Linked DNA regions of Homo sapiens: region 2 is linked to region 1. The links come from fine-mapping of genetic effects on gene expression. A gene starts in region 1. The other region holds a variant in brackets. All regions are shown on one strand. Distances are between the middles of the regions.

Region 1 (11,196 bases):
GGTTCTATCCTGGTGTAATGCACAATGGCTTTGTGGATGTGAGCAAGCCACATTCCCAGAGCCATGGTCACCCAGCCGGTACACAGGGTCTGAGGATGCTGGACGCAGGCAAGGAGGGTTTGTGGTCCACGCTGTGGCCTGCAGGATGGGCAAGGGCTGGCAACAACCCTTCTGAGCTGCCTGTGCCTCTCCTGTGAGTCCTGCCTGCTCTGCCCCAGGGATCCTGGTGCCTGGGTCTGGCCTCCCCTGGGCTGTCTGGTTCCTGGACAGTGAGAGCCGGTGATCTGCAGCCAGGGCCTGGCACAAGTAGGTGCTGGGTAAAACAAGGGGGTTGCCATTTCTTCCTAATCTTTGAAAACCTGCATTTGAACATGGTGGCTCACTGGTTTGTGCTTACAGTGATTTCGCTACAAGTGTTTGCACCTTTTTGTGTGTTTATTGGCGGGATGAATGAATGAGTCTATGAATGAATGAGTGAGTGTATGTGTGAACAGCCCCTCCCCCACCCTCTGTATGAATGAATGAATGAGTGTATGTGTGAACGGCCCCTCCCCCCACCCTCTGTATGAATGAATGAATGAGTGTATCTGTGAACGGCCCCTCCCCCACCCTCTGAATGAATGAATGAGTGAGTGTATGTATGAACGGCCCCTCCCCCACCCTCTGAATGAATGAATGAATGAGTGTATGTGTGAACAGCCCCTTCCCCACCCTCTGTATGAATGAATGAATGAGTGTATGTGTGAACGGCCCCTCCCCCCCACCCTCTGTATGAATGAATGAATGAGTGTATCTGTGAACGGCCCCTCCCCCACCCTCTGTATGAATGAATGAGTGTATGTATGAACGGCCCCTCCCCCACCCTCTGAATGAATGAATGAATGAGTGTGTGTGTGAACAGCCCCTCCCCCCACCCTCTGTACGAATGAATGAATGAGTGAGTGTATGTGTGAACGGCCCCTCTCCCCCACGACCTGATTCTCATCTGCAGGCTGAAAGTGCTTTCCCAGCTGAATTCGTACGTTCCCTTAAAACCCTTCAGGGACCCTCACTGTAAAAACGCCCCAGCTCCCCCAGCCTGACTCGCAAAGCTCAGTTTAGGGGCTGCCCTTGCAGCGGGGCTCCTGGCTCAGGTCTAGCAGGTGGAAGCAGAAGAGCATGTCCCGACACACCGATGAGAAGTTGCTGAGGACGTGGAGCAGCAGGAAGCACCACCTTTGCAGTGGGAACGCCAAACAGTGCGGCCACTTTGGAAGACCGCGGGGCAGTTTCTTACAAAATCAAACGTCCTCCTACCATACAACCAGCAATGGCCCTCCTGGGTGTTTCTGCAAATGAATTGAAAACTTGTGTCCACCCTAAAACCTGCACACACATGTTTGCAGAGGCTTTATTCATTACTGCCGAGACTTGGAAGTAAACAAGAAGTCCTTCCGTAGGCAAAGGGATAAACCGAGGTACATCCAGACAATGGAACAATATCCGGCCCGAAAAGAATGCACTATGAAACCACAAAAAAACCCAGAGGAGCCCTAGCTGCATCTCACTCATGGCAAGAAGCCAATCTCGAAAGGCTACGTGCTGTATGATTCCAATGATACCACAGCCTGGAGAGGGCAATGCCAAGGCGGCAGTGGAAAGAGCCAGGGCTGCCAGGGGCCGGGGGAGGCAGGAATGCACAGGCAGGGCAGAGGCAGCTTTTCAGGCAGTGACACTTCTGTGTGACACCATAGTGGTGGCTAAAGGACATTTTGCAAGGATGAAACCTGGGGGTAAACTCTGGACTTAATAGTAATGCATCAGTATTGGTTTATCAATTGGAACAGATCACACCACACGATGCAAGATGTTAATAATGGAGGGGCACTCAAGGAGAGGGGGTCTGTGGGAACTCTGTATACTCCCTGAGCAATTTTTCTGTAAGCCCAAAGTTCCTCTAAAAGATAAGGTCTACTTAAAAAGGACCAATTATTGGGCCAGGTGCAGTGGCTCATGCCTGTAATCCTAGCACTCTGGGAGGCCGAGGCAGGTGGATCACCTGCGGTCAGGAGTTCGAGAACAGCCTGGCCAACGTGGCGAAACCCCATCCTTATTAAAAATACAAAATCAGTTGGGCGTGGGGGCCCGCACCTGTAATCCCAGCTACTCGGGAGGCCGAGTCAGGGGAACTGCTTGAACCTACGAGGTGGAGGCTGCAGTGAGCCAAGACTGTGCCATTGCACTCCAGCCTGGGCTACACGTGACCCTGTCTCAAAAAATAAAAAATAAAATACAATAAAATAAAATAAGGGCCAGGCATAGTGGCTCACGCCTATAATCCCAGCATTTTGGGAGGCCAAAGTGGGCGGATCACGAGGTCAGGAGATGGAGACCATCCTGGCTAACATGGTGAAACCCTGTCTCTATTAAAAATACAAAAATTAGCCGGGTATGGTGGCGCACGCCTGTAATCCCAGCTACTCAGGAGGCTGAGGCAGGAGAATTGCTTGAACCCGGGAGGCAGAGATTGCAGTGAGCCAAGATCGCGCCACTGCACTCCAGCCTGGCGACAGAGTGAGAGTGAGACTCTGTCTCAAATAAATAAACAAATAAAAATAAAATGACAATTTATTAGTTGTTTATCTGAACTTCAGATTTAACTGGGCCTGTATTTATCTGGCAGCCTCAACCCCGTGCAGACCATTGATCTCAGGAGAGGCAGGCAGAGCGGAAGCCGCGCTGGCATTTGTGTTCAATGGCAGGTGGGAAGGAGGAAGAGGAGGTCTCCACTGGCTCCCCAGGCATCTCAGAGACCCCCCATACTTAGCATGCCTTCCGGAGGATCCCATTAGCAGACTATCAGAGAAACAGGGATGGAAGGAGTGGTGAGGGGTCTGCTCCATTGTGACCCCACCCCTGCCTCGCCCTGAGGAAGGACCTCAGCTCCTAGCTCAACCGCCGCCCTCCAGCAGCCCCAGTGATCTGAGCAGCACCCACCCGTGACCCACAGCTCGGCCTCCAATCACCCTCCTCTCCACATCGGCCACCCACAACTCTGAACCCAACTTCCAGCAGCCACATATCTCTAAGCACACTGCACAATGTGGCTGCCGAAAGAGGCAGCATTGCATGAACATAAAAGGAAGCCTGAGGACCCCCGGCCCCAGGACCCCCCTTCTCCAGCTCCATCCCTGTCCTGCGGTCTGCTCCTTGGGCCTGGCCAAGGGCACCTGCTGCTGGGCAAAGGCCTGTCTGGTCACCAGCCTCCTGGGACCCTGCCACTGGCAGCCTGGAGCTTCTCCACCTCACGCAGGCCTGGACAACAGTGGGGACGGCTGCCACCACCTTCCCTGCCCACTCTGGCCCACTTCTCACTCCATCCTGCTTCAATGCCTTCATGCTAGATAGACCCCCTGGAGTCATTTCCACTCAAACCCACCCATCAGGAGGAACTCCAGCCCTACCCGGCCCAGGCCCTCGGAGGGGCACAGTGCCCTCTCCTCCTCCTGAATTTCCATCAACCCCAGTGCCCTCCCGCAGCCCTGTTCCCACCTGCAGGCCTGGGCCCCCTGCCCCCAGCAACAACCAGGACCCATGGCCCCGCTTCTTGCTCTGAAGCATGACACCCCTGCCTCTTGCTCTGAAGAACACTTAGGGTGCTGTTGGGTGCGGGAACAAGCCAGGCTTGGGGGTGGGGGGCACGGGCAGTTAAAGAGATAGATGGAGAAGTGGCCTGAATCCAGCCACCAGGCAGAGGAAACCAGGGGAGGAGGGAGAGGCCTGGGGACAGGGGAGGGAGGCTGCTGCCCTCTACTCCCGAAGGGTCCCAGCAGCCCTCCTGGCCAGCACTACCCAAGGAAAGGAGTGAGGACTGGGCCTTGGACGGGGGTCCCTGTAGAGAGGGCCTTGCCAGAGGCTGGAGGGGGCTGGCCAGAAGGGTGGAGAGGGGGTGAGCAAACGGCAAGGCCTGAAGAGGCCAGTGGCCCTCTTGGAGGAGGCGTGGTGGGAGCACCGAGGATGGACAGCGTGGCTGGTGTGGCCAGCGTGGGGGCTGCCAACCGGGCTGGCCAGAAGGGCGAGGTGAGGGGCCCTGGGGTTCCGGGCTCCCGGGTAAAAACAGCCAGATGGAGAGAGGGGCTTCAGACCCCAGGCCCGGGGACCCGCCCTCCCCAGCACTACAGCCCCGGTTCTCCACTTCCAGCTCCCAGCAGCTGCAAGCGCAGCGGTGCGGGGCCAGGCTGTGGCCTGGAGCTGCCAAAGGGCAGGGGCACGGGTGTGGGGGGCGTGCAGGCCGGGGTCCCGGGAGGCAGGGCAGACAGGCCCGAAAGAGTGCGACGGCGGCGGGAGGTCTCTGGGGCTGGGAGGGGTGCGGGCGTGGGCGGGGCGCGAGCAGCAGGGGCGCGGGCCCGGGCTTCAGGCTGTGGGGCCGGGAGTGCGGGGCGGGACTGCTGCGGCCCCGCGTCCTGTGGAGTCTGCGGCGCGGGGAGTGGGGGTCGGGGCGGGGAGGAACGTGGGGTGCGGGACAGGAGGGGGGCAGGGAGGGAGAAGAAGGCGGCGCGGGGCGGGGCGGGCGCAGGGCTGGGGACGGCACGGGCGCGCGGCACGGGCGCTGGCGCGTGCGGGGGGGGCGGCGCGGCCTCCGGAAGCGAGGGGGCGCTGTGCCAGGCGGCGGCCGTGCGGGGCGGGCGCGCTGCTCCTTCCGCCTCGCGGACCCCGGAAGCGCGCGTGGCCGCCATGGCGCGGAATGTGGTGTGAGTAGGGGTCGTCACCCCCCCGTCGCGGGGCGCCCCTTAGTGTCACAAGCAGACGGACCCCACAGGGCGCGCGGACTCCGGGGAGCGGGGTGGGCGTCCCTGGGCCGCCTCCTGGCCCGGGCGAGGCAGGGTTCTCCGGGACCCCCTGTCATGCCTTGAGACACGCGAGGCGGGTGGCGGAGGAGCCCCCCGCCAGGTTTAGGGCAACCCCAGGGGGCGGGCGTGGCCGGGCTGGGGACAGAGGGTCCGAGCCAAACCCATGGAGGCCACGGTGCCCCCGCGTGGGGAGTGGGAGGGTGGCCCGGGGTCAGGCCCGGGGCTGGTCCCGCAGCCAGGGCCGAGGGAGCTGTTTGGAGACGTTTCTGATCGTCACGGGGCGGGGGCCACGTCGGCTGTTGGGTCCAGGCGGGGAGGCCCGGGCGGCCCCCACCGCAGCGCGGGCGCGGCCTGAGGCAGAGGAGCTGGGAATCCAGATTGGGTTTGAGTGGGAAAGGGCAGCTGACCGCAGCCCTCAGGGCTTTGGGGCAGGCAGGGCGGGAGGCCCGGTTCTGCTCAGCCCAGACCCCCCACGCCCACTCTGCATGTTCTCTGGATTCCCAGGGGGCCATCGGGGCGCTGTCCTGCACCACTTCGCCCTCCCCAAATTGAAGCAGGAAGCCCTGCATATTTCTTGGTGAACGAATGACTCAGGCGTAATCAGTAGATGTGGGCTCCCGGGTGGGTTTTGGAGAACAGTAATCAGTGTTTCTGGAGAGGGACGGTCAAGGGGCCAGGGTGTGGCTTTGGAGGCCCCTGCACATAGCTGGGGAGAGAGGGGAGGGTGGCAGGTGGGACCCCCAGTGGAGGAGGCTTCCTTCAGCAGACACCTGGGACCGGTGCTGCGCGTGGCCCTGACCTTGGGGAACACCCAGCACCAAGGAAGAAAAGGTCTGAGTGAGGCCAACACTGCCCTGAGCCTCACGTGAATTCCACGCTGGCCCTTCGCCTGTCCCTGGAGAATGAGGAGGAAGTGAGGGTCAGAGGACCCGGGTGGGGTGTTCCTGAAGGGCCAAGGGTGGTGGGCCCCTGGAAACGGATCAGGTGTGGTTGCCTTGGAGGCAGCGGGGCCCGCTCGCCCAGCAGTGCACACACTCCTGTTGCCAGGGAGCCTTTGCAGGGAGCGCTGACTGGACTTGCTGTGGACTGGATGCAGCTGGGGTGGGGGTGCCGAGAGGGTGGGATCCTGGGTGAGTCACTCGTGGGGCCGTGGGGAGGCAGGCTGGTGGCAGTGAGCCAGGTTTTTGTGTTTTGAGGAAGAAGTTAGTGCAGAGTTCTACTTGAGATAGGTTACCGTGGAGGTGCTTGTGAAATCCCATGCGGAGTGCTTGGGGTGCTCCCTGGGGAGAGTGGGACTGAGGGAACTGAGGGCTGGTGGGCCCACAAGGGTTCGAGAACAAAAGAGAGGCCTTAGAGCCCTGTCCTGGGGCCCTGGGTGTCGACAGTGCAGATTGTTCCAGATCTGCAGGCTCCATGCACAGGCAGCTGGCGCTCCAGCCTGGAGAGGCTCGGCCTGTGGGAACAAGGACAGTGAATCGTCCTGGCCCAACCCCTGCCAGCCTCTCATCTCAAGCCCACACATGGCCCTTCAGACCCTTAGCAAAGTGTGCCCTTCAGGCCCCAAGCCTGGAGACTCGAAAATTAATGGCCTGGGAGCTGTTGAACCCTCTTTTCTACTGTTTACTGGGAGTCCCCAAACTTTGTCTCCACTCCTGCAGTCCCACAGCTGGTCACCAGAGGGAATGTGTGAGCCCCTCGGGTGGCCATGGCTAGCCTGAACCTGTGGGTAAAACAAGTCAGGCCCCTCCACCTCCAGAGCCCACCCTTTCTTCTCGGCCTCTCACTGGGGCCCACCCCTGAAGGCTGCACTCTGAGGCTTGGAAAGGCCAAGGCCATGCCCAAGAGGAGGCTCTGCTGGGGTTGGGTGAGTGAAGACTCAGCCCCACTGGCCCGGCCACCAGGCTGCCATGTGTCAGTGTGGTCATCAGGAGGCCTGGGGTGGACATGATTAGTGATCGGGCTTTGTTACAGGCGCCTTGCCTCTGAGAGGTCCCAGCAGCTCCTGGCCCCTGCCAGGCCCTCAGGCCCAGAGGCTCAGTGCTGCCTACCACTGTTGGCCCTTCAGGAACACCCCACCCAAGGCCTCTGACCCTCACTTCCTCCTCATCTTCCCTAGACAGGCAGAGGCCAGCGTGAAATTCATGTGAAGCCTGGGGCAGCGTTGGCCTCACGGAGCCCCTCTTAACTTGGTGCTGGGTGCTCCCAAGGCCAGGGCCATGTGCAGTGCCTCAGATAAGGCCACCAGAGACCCCTCAAGAGCCCCTGTGCTCCCCGTCCACCAAGACCTGCACCTAGGCTCTCAGACCCCACATCCCCCGAGACCCAGCAGGCCTGAGTTTCTCCTGTGCCCCTCCTCCCCCCAGCTCTGAGGCCCAGATAGAGCCAGGGTGTGCCGGCAGTGGCAGGGGCGGGAACGGGGGTGGGGGACGGTAGGACGGTGCTGCCTGTCCACCCAGCTGAACGTGGGAGAATGCACGAAACCAACTGGCTAGAGATTCTGCACGATCGTCACCTGGCCCCCCAGCCCAGGCAGCGTGCTGGTCTAGTTTGCGGTGGCCACTTGGCACCTCTCCATCTGCCTCTGCTGGCTTTTAGTGGAGTGCTGGGGTGTGGTGCACTCAACTCACATTTAGTGTACTGAATCAGAGTCTTGGCAGCACCGTCTTCCAGGAGCCTAAGCCTGGTTAGCCTGCGTTCTCCATACCGAGGAGCTAGGCCCTGCTGCCACCGGGAGAGTGCGGAGCTGGCCTTTTCTGTCCCATGGTGTGTGGTTCTCTGCAGCTCCACTTCACCCGAGCAGCAGGAGAGTGGGCCGGCCGCGTGGGGTCTGCTCTCCCAGGGGTATCAGTGCCCCAACACACGTCTTTGAGCCTTGCCATCAGCTTATTGGGGGAATGCTGTCTGCGGGGTTCTGATTTTTGTCCATTGGCCTTTTCTAAAGTCTGACCTTGGGGGTCAACAGCGCATGCTCCTTAAGTCGATGCTAGGGACTGGCCGTCCACCTTGGCAGGCCCATGTGAGAAAGGGGCTGTGGGGACCTCTGTGTCCTTGGGTGGTGACCTGCTGATAGCTACCCCGTTTCCCGCCCACCCCTGTTGTGAGTGGACACGCGGGGGTCTGCAGGGTTAGCTACCCTGTTTCCCGCCCACCCCTGTTGTGAGTGGACACGCGGGGGTCTGCAGGGTTAGCTACCCTGTTTCCCGCCCACCACTGTTGGGAGTGGACACGCGGGGGTCTGCAGGGTTAGCTACCCCGTTTCCCGCCCACCACTGTTGGGAGTGGACACTCAGGGATCCGCAGTGTTAGCTACCCCCTTTTCTGCCCACCCTGTTGTGAGTGGACACTCGGAGGTCTGCAGGGTTGGTGTGTCGGGCTGCCTTGGCCTAAGTGTGTGACATGGACCCAATCTCTTCTGTACAGGTACCCCCTGTACCGGCTGGGTGGCCCACAACTTCGGGTGTTCCGAACCAACTTCTTCATTCAGCTGGTGCGGCCCGGTGTGGCCCAGCCCGAGGACACCGTGCAGTTCCGGATCCCCATGGAGTGAGTCCGGGAGGATTCCGGCTGGGGTTGGGGAGCACCCTCGGGGGGATCCCCGTGGAGTGAGCCCGGAAGTTTTCCCGCTGGGTTGGGAGAGTGCCCTCAGGGGGGCCTGGGTCCTGAGTTAAAACAACTCTGCTCACGTGCTAGCCTCTTCCTGCTGGGAAGGCACCTCAGGCGGCCCTGCCCGGCAAGTATTGATGGAGTGCCTGTAGGTGTGGAGCCCGGCAGGCAGGCTGCACGCCGCCCTCCACCCGGGGACGGCTTCACTGGAAGCCTTAAAATTTGGACCTCTGTGCTCGCGTCTTCTGTTGAGTTCTTGCAGCTTCTTTTTAGGAGAGGCGCCCTGAGAGGCTGGGTTGGGAGCAGGCCGTGATGTACAGAACCGCTCAGAAGAGCCTGCTTGACCTTCAGAGAAATGCACAGTCCCTACGAGCAAAACTGGGGTGCTGCTCTGCAGTGTTTAAGTTCACAGGTCCCCAGCTCAGGGTTGATGCGAGCCAGGCGGGGCAGCAGCGTGAGCTCCCCTGGGGGCGAAGGTCAGGCCTGTGCAGCCTGCAGGGGCCCAGAAGCTGAGTTGACAGTGACCGTGAGGTTCTGCAGTAGAGGGAACTTGCAGTTAACGCACCGAATGCCAGGCAGGCCTTTCCAGAAGGTACTTCCTAGAACCGCATCAGTCCCATCAGCCGCAGAGCAGGCCTAACCCTGATGCGGCCACTGGGCCCCGGGGCAGACGAGGTGGGGCACCTGCCAGCCAGGAGCGTGCAGAGACTGTCACCTCCTCTCACAGGCACTTGCCCGGAGCAGGGAGCCATGTGGGGCTGTGGAGCAGGCCAGGGGTTGGTTGGGCAGTGCTCCCACTCTGTGGGGTCTGTGCCACTGCCACCCCATGCTGGTGTGCCCAGAGTAGGGAGTCTTGCAGCCAGCAGCACTGGTGTTGCTGGGGCTGCCTGGCCTCACTAGTGCCGCTGATGTACCCAGCCCTCCTCCCTGCCCCCTGTGGGTCTTGGTCTGTCGGCCTCTCAGCCTCGGGTGCTTGTGCATCTGGGACAGTATTTTTGGCTTTTAGCCTGGTTAAGATGCCGTTTTCTTTCTCCTTCGCCTCCAGAATGACAAGGGTGGACCTCAGGAATTACCTCGAGGGCATCTATAACGTGCCCGTGGCTGCTGTGCGGACACGGGTGCAGCATGGTGAGTGCCCATGGGAGGTTCTCCTGTTGGTGTCGTGCCCATCTGTGCCACATGCCCACCTCGCCGAGCCACAGCCTCAGCTACTGCATGGGGGTCTTGGTCTGACGTGGCTCATGGGAAACTGAGGCACAGGGTGACTTGTCAGGGTCACACGGTGCTTACGTGCCAGAGCAGGGATTGGAATTCAACTGGGCTGGCCCGGGGTCCATTCTGAGCCCTGACTCCTGCCGTCAGCCCCCGAGGTGGGACTGCAGTGGCTGAGGCTGGGGAGCAAAGCGCTGTCTGTTCCATAAGCCCCTGTCGTGTGCCCTGGCTGGTGCCACGTCCGCTCCTTTGTTGAGAACCTGCTGGCCTCTGTTGGGAGAAGGGAGGAGCCTGGGAGCCTGCTGTGCTGGCTCGTTTGATTACAGTGCCCATTTCCCTGAGAAATCGCCTTTTTGAGTTTTTAAAAACATATTTACATTTTTAAGAGAGCAGAGGTTCGTTTTAGTGGCATTGACCTCTGAGGATGTAATTTTTTAAAGTTCTGATTTTTTTAAAGTTCTGATTTTTTTTTCACTCCCTTCCGGCAGGCTCTAACAAGAGAAGAGATCACAGAAACGTGAGGATCAAGAAGCCGGACTACAAGGTCGCCTACGTGCAGCTGGTGCGTGTGAGCTGGCCAGCCCCAGCGGGGCCTCCGAGGGGCTCCTCGCAACTGTGTCCTTGGGGATGTTTGTGCCGGAGACGCTGCGCTGGGGCCCAGGGAGCCCCCGTGAGGCCGGATCTCAGGGCCTCAGCGCAGAGGCAGGCTCCACATAAGGTCATGCTCCGTCACGGCCTTGGGGGTGTTAGTGGTGGCGCTGGGAGCACGTGAGCACTGGGGCACATGGGGCACGTCTCAGCGTCCGGCCGTTTTGTGATTTTGAAGTTTGAATTCTCTGTGGGCAAAGGCAGCCATCACAGGCCTAGTGGGTTTCAACTCCAACGCACACCAGGGTGTCAGAGCATGGGAGGCCCCGGCCTCTGGAGAGCCTGTCCTTGGCTGGGTTTCAGCCTCGGAGGCAGAGTGTGAGGCCCCTGAGGGCAAAGGTCTTTGGTGCCAAGGCAGGTCTGGCTGGCCGGGCTGTTGGCTGAGGCCCATGTCCTGCATTGCAGGGTAGCAGGTCCCACGTACTTGTTAGGGCTCAGCAGGCTGCTTCTGAGCAGGTGCTTTCTTACGTATCCTGGGGGGCTCTGGGGAGGAAGAACCCTCACCCCACGTTGCCTGGGCCTTCAGTTTCTGAAACCCAGACTTGTCAGGAGTGAGACCCACAGTTTCAAAGCCTTTCTTTGGGCTCTTCATTTTGAGTCCCAGGCAAACCCAGAGGCACTTTCTCTCTGGGCCAAGATGTCCACAGCCTGCCCCGGCCGCCTCCTGGGCCTCCCCACTCTGCCCCTGGGGCTGGCCTTACTGGGTGGGGATGGGGTTGTCTTCCGGTGTAAATGGTCCCTGGAGGCCGAGCCGGCGGGCCCTGCCACTAGATGGCAGTCACACGATGGTGGAAACCGCCTCCTGGGCCAGCCGGCCTGTTGTGGGGCTAAGGAGGCAGTTTGTGAAAAAGGCCAAGTTAGCATGGCAGCTTTTCTGAAAAACAGTCACATTTGTTGTTCTAAA
Region 2 (12,214 bases), 160 kb after region 1:
CCAGGCCCAGCCCAAGCACCGCCTCCTGAGAACTCTCCTCCCCTCACTGACCCCTGTCCCATCTGTCTCTGCCCTGAAGGAACACCAAGTTGGGGCTGTGGGGCTGGGACCAGGCCTCGGAGCCAGGTAGCAGCCCATTGGGGGACAGCTCAAGAGGCTCCGAGAGCTCCCTGTGACATCTGAGAGGCCAGCAGGACGAAGGCCACAGCCAGCAGCCAGGACCTGACCACTTGCCCAGGCTGGTCTGAGCTCCTGGCCAGGGGCCTCTTGGCAACATGACCTGGCAGGTGCTGTCTGTCCATTATTCCCCTCTCACGGATGTCCCCGGCCTCTGTGGACATGACCGCCTAGCCCTGAAACTCCAAATGTACCTTTCTGCCTCTCCTCTTCTCTGTCAGGTGATGCCATCCTTCCCAGGGGCCTTCTGGGCTCTTCACTCCTCTAGGCCCTCAGCAAAGGCTCTCACTCTGCCCTCAGCACACACCAGGGTGCAACCACCCTCACTCCTCCACCAGTCCCTCCCAGTCACTCCCTTCTGTGTGTATCCCAGCAGGTGCCTCCACTTCTCCTCTTGCACTCTGGTCACTCAGCAGCCACAGGATCCCTTCACTCCTAAGCAGAGACCTCCACTAGCCCCACTTCTCTCCAAGAAAAAGCTGCATCCCCTTCAGGGCTTCCTGATGCCTTCCTGGGCAAGCTCCCCTTGGTTTCTCAGGTGTGTTTCTCAACAACCCATGCTTCCTCCCTATCCACCACTCCTCAGAGACGCCACATCACCTCTCTACAAGCCTTGTACCCGCTGCTCCTGCCATGAGATGCTCTCCCCCAGATGTCCATGTGAGTATGTGGTGGGGGCTAGAAAGGTATGTAGATGGGTAAATGGTTGGCTGGGTAGATGGCTGGATGCGTGGGTGGATGCATGGATCCATGGAAGGAAGGAAGGAAGGAAGGAAGAGAGGGAGGGAGGGCAAGAGGAAAGAAGGAAGGAAGGAAGGAAAGAAGGAAGGAAGAGAAGAAGGGAGGGAGGGAGGATGAATGGGTGCACAGATGGGTGCATGGATGGGTGCATGGATGGGTGCATGGATGGGTGGATGAACAGATGGATGGATGAACAGATGGATGGATGGATAAGTGGATGCATGGATTCATGGAAGTAAGGAAGGAAGGAAGGAAGGAAGGAAGGAAGGAAAGGAAGATGGATGGATGCATGGATGGGTGCATGGATGGATGGATGGATGCATGCATGGATGGAAGGAAGGATGGATGGGTGGATGGATACATGAACAAATGAGTGGGTGGATGGATGGATGGATGAATGGGTGGGTGGATGCATGGATGGGTGGATGCATGGATGGATGGAAGATAGATATATGGATAAATAAGTGGGTGTATGAATAGGTGGGTGAATGGACGGATGAATAGATGCATAGATGGGTGGATGCATGGATGGATGGATGGATAGATAGATAGATACATGGGTGAATGAGTGGATGTATGAATGAGTGGGTGAATGGATGGATGAATAGATGCATAGAGGGGTGGATACATGGATGGGTGGATAGATAGATAAATACATGGATGAATGAGTGGGTGTATGAATGGGTGGATGCATGCATGGATGGATGGATAGATGGATGGATAAATGGATACATGTAGGAGTGAGTGAATAGATGCTTGGATGGATGGATGGAAGAAAGGATGGATGGATAGATGAATACATGGATAATGACTGGGTGTATAAATGGATGGGTGGATGGTGGGTGGATGAATGAATGGATAGATGCCTGGATAAATGGATGGATAGATGCATGGATGGATGAATGGATGGGTGGATGCCCTTTCTCTGAATGCCAGCCAGGAACGTAGCCAAGTGGAAAGGCCCAGGTGGGCAGCTGTCTTCCCAGACCACTCACACTGACCTGAGAACAACTGCTGGGCCCCAGGTGTTGAAAGGGCAAAAAGAGATGTACCCAGCTGGACTGTGCAGGTGCTGGCTGCCCGTTGTTTTGAGCCATGCTCTGATTTGTTCCTCTGTGCCTGCTCTGGGGACTTGGCCACTCTGAGCCATCTGCAGGCTTCCCTGGTGTCCCCTGTACCCATACCACAAGCCAAGTTCCTCCAATGTCACCCTTGATTGCTGTCCCTTGTGTGACTCACACTGGTCCTCCCTGTGTGATCATAGGCTATTCGCCTCTGCCACACACCACACTCATCACCCAGGCTAATCTGGGTGGGAGGCAGACTTGTCCAGCGCTCACAGCTGCTGAGCCTCAGAGCCAGGCCAGACCCAAGGCCAGGACTCCTGAGCTCCCCTCCAACTCTCCGTCCTTACAAGCCTTCCTTGCACCAGCCTTGTCCCCTCTGGTCTAGTTGCATCTATTTCACCCCTGCCAGAAGACGGTGTTCGTTGCCTATGGCTGCAGAATAAATTAGTCCAAAACTTAAAACAATAAAGACTTAAAGTGATGGATATTTATCATCTCAGTTTCTGTGGGTCAGGAGTACAGGAGCAGCTTAGCCTGGTGGTTGTGGCTTGGCTTGGCTGCCACCCCCTGACACCCCAAGCCAAGCCACCAGCCCTGGGCCCCAGCCATCTGAAGGTCCTGCTGGACTGAAGTGTCCCCTTCATGCCTGGCAACCTAGTGTGGCTGTCGGAGGGATGCTCAGTCCTTCCACACAAACCTCTGAGGTTTGCGCATCCTCACAACATGGCAGCCAGCTTTCCCCAGAGGGAGTGAAGGGAGAGAGGTGGGGGAAGAAGAAGGATGCTGCAGTGTCAATTATGACCTGGCCTCAGAAGTCACCCGCCGTCATTCCCACTGTTGGTTACACAAATCCATCCTGTTAATGTGAGGGGGGCCGCACAGTGGCCGAATTCCTGGAAGTGCAGATCTAGGCCCATGGCTACCATGACCTGCAGCTGACATGCTCTTCTTTCTTCCACAAATGACATGAAGTGAGAGAAGCAGTGGGCAAGGTAGCCCCAGACTGACCATCTTCTTGTGGTTCCATTGCCGACACCTGGTGACCTGGCCCAGCCAACACCTCCAGCCCCCTCCTCCTTCCCCACAATAGGCTCAGCTCAGGCCACCCTGAGCGCCAGGGGCAAGGTGTGCCTGGAGCTCTTCAGTGAGACAGTGACTGTTTCTGGGGTAGCCCTGGACCCTGAACCCCTCCAGTGCTGAGATAGACGAGGGGTCCCTCCTTACTGTCCCCTTCCCTGGCCCCATGACTCTGCAGATTCCCCAGCCACAGGGCAGGAAGGGTAGAGCCAGCGTTTTGGGTGGGATAGGGAAGGGCCCGGCTGGGAGGCAGAACAGCTGGTGGAGGGTGGGGGAGGCATCCTGAGGCCCTGGGGGACACCAGGGCACCGACTGTACGTTGTTCTCCATCCCCAGCCTGGGCCAAGAGGGCAACCCAGGGAGCCCAGGACCTTGTCCAGCAGCTGAGGCCTCTGAGGGGAGAGTGCCAGAAAGAGTGGGGGTGCCAGGGCTCTGTCCCCCATCTTTCCTGGCTTGGGTTTCTGGGAGAGGGGGCGGGTGTTGACTCCCGGAGGGGCTGCCCTGGAAGTCAGGTGGCCTGGCGGTTCCCAGACCTGCCAGCCCTTGCTGAGGGAGCCTGCAGGCTCTTCTCCTTCCCAGGCCTCCCCGGCATCTGAGAACCTTCTCCCCAGCACTGACCCATGGCTGGGAGAGGGTCAGGGCCCTCAGGGAGCCCGGCTGAGCCAGCACGGGACGCAGGGGTCGGCTCCTTCAGACCCCCCCACTTTCGGGCAGCGGTGCCCACGCCCAGCTGGGCAGGGCCGAGTCCATGAGACCCACTGCCCTCCCCGGGAGCTCCCGGCCAGCCGCCCACTGCAGCAGCCCGTGTAAAAGTAACGCCTGTTATGCCAGGAACGTCACAGGGCCCTGGGGCTGCAGACAAGCTGGGTCTTTTTTTTTTTTTATTATTAAAAAGCAAAACCTAAACCAAGAAAACAAAGTGATTAAGTTTCTCCTCAGAACAGCAGGCCCCACAGAAACGAGGAGCGACCGTCCCACTGGGTGCTTGGACCCTCACCCACCACTCGGGAAAACAGCCGAATTCTTCACACAAACAGGAAGCAGCTGGTCTTCCCTGAACATGAGGGGAGGGCTGGGGCCTCAGCATGCGGGCTGCCTAGAAGGTGGCGCTGCAGCCAGGCCCTCGGCTGGGCTGGGCAGTCCCAGCCCTCCAGGAAACGGCCAGGCTGCAACTCCCCCGCCAGGAACCCCTGGGCTTCGCGCTTGACCAGTGGAGCCGTGCAGGTCAGAGGAGGGTGGGCTCCCAGCACACACCCTTCTCTGCCACGGTGGGCTCAGCTGCTCCACCCAGGCTGCCAAGACCCAGCCCAGAGCACACAAACTAGCTGGGCTTCTCATGGGGTACAATGGGAGTGGGCAGGAGCTGGCAGCCATGCTGGGCAGGTCAAGGGCCTTCAAAGGGCTGCCACAGCCCAGCTGGGGCGCTGAGGCCTGCAGAAGCTCACTCTGGTGGCATTGAGTTGGGGAAGGGGTCTCTGTGAGCCAGGTTCAGAAAGGAAGATGTGAGGCAAGTTTTAAAGAAATGTTTTAAAATAGAAGGGGCTTAAAGCAGAAAAGTTTAGCCTGCCAGAAGTTAGAACATGTTCTAGAGTAACAATAATTAAAACCTCACGGTACTGATGCAAAGATGGAGATATAGGCTGGGGAGGAGAAGTGGAAGTCTGGAAGTGGAACCAGCAACCTACACAAAGAACATTAAAACTCCAGAAAAAAAGAACGCTACAATTTAAAACCACAGCGTAGGATCTCAGAAGCCCTTCCAGCAGAGGAGCACAGAGGAGCTGCCTCAGGCATTGTCTTGAGATAATGTGTTAGTAATTTGTAATAAAATTCAATCAAAGAGAACACTTACATCCACATAAAAACCTGCTCACAAGTATTTATAGCAGTTTTATTCATAATCACCAAAAACTTGGAAGCAACTGAGATCTTTCAGTGCGTGAGTGGGTAAACACACAGCGGTACCTCTATGCCGAGGAATGTTATTCGGTGCTAAAAAGAAGTTAGCTGTGAGCCGCAAGAAGACATGGAGGAGCACCAAATGCATGATACTAAGTGAGAGAAGCCACTCTGCAAAGGCTACGCCCGTAGGATTCCACCTCTATGACGTCCTCGAAAAGGCAAAGCTATGGAGACAGTGAAAAGACCGGTGGCTGCCAGCGTTTGCAGGAAGAGAGGGAGGAAGAGGTGCAGAACCATGACTGTGGGGGCAGTGAAACTACTCTGTCTGATAGTCTGATGGTGGATATAGGGCATGATAACTTGCGTCCAAACTCATAGAATGCACAACCCCTAGAGTGAGCCTGGACCTCAGTGTGTGCTGGTGCTGGCTGGTCAATTCTAAGAGAAGGCCCACATATTGCAACATGTGAATAACAGGGGAAACTGTGGTGGACGCATGAGGCAGGAGGTCCATGGGAACTCACTGTGCTTTCCATGTGATTTTTCTGTAGTCCTAACCCAGTTTTACTCTTGTCCAAGGACCGTCTGTCCATCACTTTTTAATGCCACTCTCAGCAGCTCCCTTTGTGGAGAACAAACCCGAGCCAGGCTGTTTACACGCGCATCCGGTGGGAGCCCCGTGCTCAGGTGCT[C/T]GCTTTTGCACAGGGGGACACTGAGGAACAGAAAAGCGAGGCAACACTCCAGGATTTGAAACAGTCAAAACACTTGCCCCTCTGCTAATTATAAGCACAGCTACTGGCCCCTAAGCCTGGGCTCTTCGACCTCGGTTCTCAAATGTTCCGGCCTCAGGGCCTCTTGCATTCCCCAAAGTTATGAACAAGTCCTTAAAGAGAGTGGGTTGATACGGGGTCACCCCTGCTGATATTTACTGTCTTAGAAGTTACAACTAAGACATTGAAATATTTCAATATTTAAAATATTAGAAATTTTAAAAATAGGTTAAATGAATTAATTTAAAAGTCACAACAGAGGCTGGGCATGGTGGCTCATGCCTGTAATTCCAGCACTTTGGGAGGCCAAGGCGGGAGGATCACTTGAGCCCAGGAGTTCAAGACCAGCCTGGGCTATGTTGCTATGTTACCCAGGCTGGTCTTGAACTCATGGGCTCAAGTGATCCTCCCACCTTGGCCTCCCAAAGTGCTGGAATTACAAGGAGGAGTAATCAAAAAGAAAATCTACAAGCACATAAGGCCATTAAAATATCCTTAATTAAAAAAAAAAGCCAGGTATAGTGGCACACACCAGCTACTCGGGAGGCTGAGGCAGAAGGATCACTTGGGCCTGGAAGGTCGAGGCTGCAGTGAGCCTGGATTGTGCCACTGCACTCCGGCCTGGGCCACAGAGCAAGACCCTGACTCAAAACCATATGAAACAAATGAACACAAAACAGTAAAATCACAACAGCAATAATAAACTCACTACTACACATTAACATAAAATATTTGTTTACAAAAGACAACTAGGCTTTTCAAAACAAAGCAAGTTCCGTGAGAAGAGTGAGATGTCTTTGCACTTTGCGAATCTCTGTGGCTTGCTGGAAGGCAGCGGATTCCCATCACGCCTCTGCAGGCTTTGGCCAGCGCATGGGAAGAATGTAGATGAGGACATCTACGAACATACGTGGTTGGGAGTGGGGGGTGGGGGGCGCTGGTACTTTAATGGCCTTATGCGCTTGTAGATTTTCTTTTTGCTACTACACCAAAACTTGACAAGTGTCATTTCTTCAAGCTTAGCTGCAATGCAGAATCTGAAACCCATGACCTTTAGAGACTCCGTGATGTTACAGTCCCTCAGTTTAGGAAACGACAGAGGCATCATAACCAAATGCACCGGGGCTGGGCGTGGTAGTGCACGCCTGGAATCCCAGCACTTTGGGAGGCCGAGGCAGGCAGATCACCTGAGGTCAGGAGTTCGAGACCAGCCTGGCCAACATAGTGAAACCCTGTCTCTACTAAAAATATGAAAATTAGCTGGACATGGAGGCAGGCACCTGTAATCCCAGTTACTAAGGAGGCTGAGGCAGGAGAATCACTTGAACCTGGGAGGTGGAGGTTGCAGTCAGCCAAGATTGCACCACTATACTCCAGCCTGGGCGACAAGAGTGAAACTCCATCTCAATGTGGCCAGGCACGGTGGCTCACGCCTGTAATCTCAGCACTTTGGGAGGCCAAGGTGGGTGGATCACGAGGTCAGGAGATTGAGACCATCCTGGCTAACATGGTGAAATCCCGTCTCTACTAAAAATACAGAAAATTAGCCGGGCGTGGTGGTGGGCGCCTGTAGTCCCAGCTACTCGGGAGGCTGAGGCAGGAGAATGGCATGAACCCAGGAGGCGGAGCTTGCAGTGAGCCGGGATCGTGCCACTGTACTCCAGCCTGGGTGACAGAGTGAGACTCCGCCTCAAAAAAAAAAAAAGAAAAAAAGAAACTCCGTCTCAAAACAAAACAAAAAAAAAAACAAAATAAACAAATGCACCGTGGACCCTCAATGGGATCCTGGAACAGAAAGAGGATGTGAACAGAAACATTGGTGAACTCCAGATGAAGCCTGGGTTACATTAATAAGTCGAGAAGCAATGTCACACTCTTAATTGTCACAACCATACCACAGTCAGGTGTGACCTTAACAAAGGGGGATTGGGCGAGGGGGGCTGTGTGTACAATCCTTGCAACTCGTCTGTCATCTTGAAATTGTTCCAAAATAAAAGGTGTATTATGGAACGAGTCAACTGGTGTATCTTGCACTTTCCAAGGATCTTTTCCTCTTTTTTGTTTTTATTTTTATTTTTGAGACAGGGTCTTGCTCTGTCATCCAGGCTGGATTACAGTTGCATGATCATGGCTCACTGCAGCCTCAGCCTCCCCAGGCTCAGGGGATCCTCCCACATCAGCCTCCCCAGTAGCTGGGACCATAGGCATGCACCACCACACCCAGCTAATTTTAACATTTTTTGTAGAGACAGGGTTTCACCATGTTGCTCAGGCTGGTCTTGAACTCCTGGGCTCAAGCGATCCGCCCGCCTCGGCCTCAAGGATCTTTTCCTGTGTGTGCCTCTGTAACGTTCCGCATTGATCGTTTGGAAAATATCAATCTCACAATCAGGCAGCTCTTCCAGGAGTGGATGCCATTCTTTATTGTTATGGAAAACTACATTTGTGACTGTCCCCACCAGGCTCCTCAGGAAGGTCTTTAAGGATTGGAAAACCGTCTGGTTCAAGGGGGCAGTTGTAAGTTTCTCAAAATTCTGCTGTTTGCATGAAAGCTCCAAGGTGGTCACCAACAGCAAAATCCAGGAGTTGTTTTTCTCTAAGTGGATCTTTTTGTTCTTCTCTGAGGAAACATCCAGCCGGTCGCCGGTTCAGTAAAAGCGGTGCACGCAGCCCATTGAGCCTGCAACTCAAACCACTGTGCAGGAGCTTTTCCTGGGGACGCTGGCATGCTTCCGGCTACAGTGGGAGTGCTTTGAGCGTGCCTCCGCGAATATTAAAAAGACACACTCCAGGGTCAAGATTTAATAGAATTAATAAAGTTTAATGCTTCATCAAGGACATTCTTAAGTGAGACTGGCAGCTGGCCCACGTCCCATGGGCTGGGAGACCTGGGCTCAGTCCCACCTCCTGCCCCAAACTCAGCCACACCACCCTGTCAGGAGGCTTTGGTGGGATGGTTCCCAGCCCCGTTCATAGACCTGCCCTCTCCCCTGCCCCCTCCACCCTCCACCACCTCACCCTCCCCATTAGATTCTCCTGGAGCTTCTCCTCAAGGTTCCAGGGAGCCCTCACCGACCAGCCCAGACTAGAGAAATTCACTTCCTGGGGCTCCCTCTGCCCATTCCTTACTATCCCGTATGTTCCTTGGCTTCCCCCACCAGGCTGCGAACTTGGCAGAGGCAGATCCCCCGACCCAGCACGGTCTCCTATCTGGCAGTGGTTTATCTCCTACTCGCCCAGGCCAGGACGGCCTCCTGCAGTCCATCCCACGAGCTTGCAGCCATCCCGTAGGGCCCTCTGTCTCAGGCCTGGCAGCAGTGGGATTCCTCTGGATCTGGGAATTCTCTTGACCCCCTGGTGAACCGCAGAGAGCACAGCCCTCGCCTCCTTGCTAATCACAAGCAGAGAGTGGCGGGTGCACGCCTCCTAGCTGGACGGGCCCTGCCCCAAGTTTCTTCTCATGCACAACGTTCAGTGAGGAACTTTCCAGAACGTGCCGGGATGTCAGATCCCAGTGCTGCAGGAAGGAGTTTCCGGGGAGCGCTGGGTGAGCGGGAAAGACCAGGAGTAAGGAGCCGACCCCCTCAGGCTTCCTCTCCCATGTTTTCCACAAGGGAGCCCCCCAGGCCCAGAGGCGCTCAGGGGAAGGCCTCGCCCAAGCTGGGCTTGCCGTCTGCCCTGAGCGCCTGGAAGTGCTCGTGCTCTGAGACAGTGCCAGCTGATTCCCCGACTCATGCCCCGGCATTCCCAGGACAGGGATGCATGGAGGGCCTGACCCAGACACCCCTGGGCACACGGGCCCTGGCCTGGACCCAGCGTTCAGACAGGAACTGGGCCCTAGTGGGAGGATCTTGCCCAGCTGAAAGAAGAGACGACTCAGCCCTGAGCCAGCCACACCTGATGGGGTCCTGCTGGGGCACCACAGAAGCCCTTCCTCGCCACTGCCCAGTGGTGGGTTCAGCGGCGGAGACTGGCCTGTTCTGGGAGACAGAGAAGGGAGGCCGCACACAGGATACTGGCCTCCCTCCTCCAAGCCGCCCTCCTTCCTTGAGGGATCTTCCAAGCTCCAGGTGGTGTTTCCTGGGCCTGAGTGGGGGAGATGCCTGGTGGAGGAGGCGTAGAGGGGAAGGGAGGGGCACCAGGGCCAGAGCAATGGCCCAGAGGGGACACACACAGGGCAGCCTCCTGGTCGCACCCTGAGTAACCCCGGCCTGCCCCTCACTCGCCGGCTGCGGTCTCAGTCTTCTTACCTGGCGGGTGGGGCTGGTAAGCACAGAGCCTGCCCCTGACACATGGGGAGCATTTAGGGAGACACACACAGAGGGCTCTCGGTACGCCCAGCCCCATGAGCGGGAGAAATGTGATGCGAAAGCCCTACCTTCACACCCAGAGTCTGGGGAGGCAGGAGAGCTGGGCAGCAGGCTGGGTCCTCCACCTGCGTAGTTCAAAACTGTACCCTCAAGCAAGCCCTCAGGCCTGACCTGGGGCAGTAGGGAGACCCCAGGTGGGGTCTAGAGCTGGTGCCAGAGGGTCCTAAGCCTCAGAACAGCTTGCCCTTGGCCTCAGGTCAGCAGTGAGGAGTGGAGGCAAACCCTAGGGCTGCCTCTCTGAGTGGCTTTCTGAGCTGGCCAGGGTTGGGCAGGAGGAGGGTGAGGCTGCTTCCATTTCACCTGCACCCAGAGCTGTACCTGGTAGAGGAAGGAAGAGATGACTGTGCTGAGGCCGGGAACTGCCTGGAAGACACAGGCCCACAAACATCTCTGGCCTCAGCCTTGGGAGGCAAGATGGCGTGGGTACTGCCTGACCACAGGAGGACTTGGGGGCACTGGGGTGAGCAACCCCACGGCCCTGCTATTCTCCGCAGCCTGACATCATGCCATCAGGGCAATGGACTCCTTGTTGGCTGTCTGTGCCTCCAGCTGTGAGTCTGCAGTTGCCCGTCTGCTACGTGGCCAATGCCCAGCACAGTGGCTAACCTGGGGCACTCAAGAACAATGGAACGACCATCAACAGGTCCCTGTCTTTCTCAGTTGGCCATCAATTAAAATGCGGAGAATAGCTCTACTTTTGAGGATGAAGTGATAGAACAGATGTACAGCAGGTAGCACAGGGTGACACCCTGTCTGTGGAAACTTCTGGAGTGAAGGCTGGCTTGTAAGGACTAAGACTTGCCAGATAGCAGGTTCATTAGATGTGATGGAAGGTAAGAGAGATGGGGACTGCTAACACCCAGAATTCTGGTGTCAACAACTGAGGGGCTGGGATGGTTATTCCTTGAGATGGGAGGAAGAGCTTCACATGCTAGTGGATAAACTGAGCAGGCATTGGATCTACGTGCCCAATCTCAAGAGGGCGAAACAAGAGTTCCACGTTTGGGAGTCTTCAGGACATATGCCATCATCAAAGCTGTGGTGTGGAAGAGTTCATCCAGGGGGTGAAGTTGGAGGAAGGGAAGGATAGAGGAAGCCCAGGCCAGGATGAGGCCAGTGCTTAATGGAAGGGAGAGCAACAAGGAAAACAAAATGACGGGACAGTAAAACTGGACCAAGTGGCCACAGGAGCCAAAGGGATAGCACATTTCAGGGTTTAAGGAATGTTATTCCATTGTCTTCCAGCCCCCATGGTTTCTGACCAGAAGTCTGTGGCAATTCAATTCACCATTCCCTGCTATGTGGTGCCTTGTTCTCTTCTTTCAAGATTTTCTTTTTTAATTTTCATTTTTATCCATTTGACTTTGATGAGCCTAGGCATGATTTTCTTCAAACTGATCCTATTCAGATTTTGTTTCTTCAAATTGATCCTATTCAGATTTTGATGAACTTCTTGAATCCATAAGTTTATGTTTTTAAAATCAATTTGAGAACTTTTTCATCATTATTTCTTTAATATTTTTTTTTCTGCTCCATTTGCTCTCTCCTCCCCTTCTGGAACTCCAATTTCCTATATATTAATTTTTGGGGTTTTTTTTTCTTTTGAGATGGAGTCTCACTCTGTCACCCAGGCTGGAGTGCAGTAGTGTGATCTTGGCTCCCTGCAACCTCCACCTCCTGGGTTCAAGTGCTTCTCCTGCCTCAGCCTCCCGAGTAGCTGGGATTACAGGCACGTGCCACCATGCCTGGCTAATTTTTGTAGTTTTGGTAGAGATGGGGTTTCACCATGTTGGCCAGGCTGCTCTTGAACTCCTGACCTCAAGTGATCTGCCTGCCTCAGCCACCCGAAGTGCTGGGAATACAGGTGTGAGCCACTGCACCTGGCCATCTGTTAAGTTTTTAACACTATTCACATGTACTTGAGTCTCTTTTCATGTTTTTAAAGCCTTTTCTCTCTCTCTCATTTTCGTATTGAGTTGAATAACTTCTATTGCTCTGTCTTCAAGTTCACAGACTTTCTTCTGTCCTCTCTACACTACTGATCCTTTCATCCAGTATTTTGTTTTTTACTAATTTCAGAGAGTGTATTTTTCAGTTCAAAACATCAATT

The links. PIP is the estimated chance that this variant, and not a neighbour inherited with it, causes the effect.
Region 2: its variant is fine-mapped to the expression of MRPL23 in aorta (GTEx, PIP above 0.99).

What each region holds. Positions count from the first base shown.
Region 1 is chr11:1,942,650-1,953,845 of GRCh38, forward strand. It overlaps MRPL23 (mitochondrial ribosomal protein L23), which reads left to right and starts at 4,683. Exons shown (of 5, transcript NM_021134.4): 1 at 4,683-4,730; 2 at 8,250-8,372; 3 at 9,478-9,560; 4 at 10,133-10,206. The coding sequence starts at 4,714. It overlaps SNORD131 (small nucleolar RNA, C/D box 131), which reads left to right and starts at 6,682; the gene lies at 6,682-6,827. RefSeq lists an enhancer at 6,612-7,349.
Region 2 is chr11:2,105,542-2,117,755 of GRCh38, forward strand. No RefSeq gene overlaps it. Among named protein-coding and RNA genes, the nearest start is that of MIR483, 23 kb to the right of the region's middle. RefSeq lists a silencer at 8,827-9,097. The variant C/T (reference allele first, on the strand shown) is at 5,657.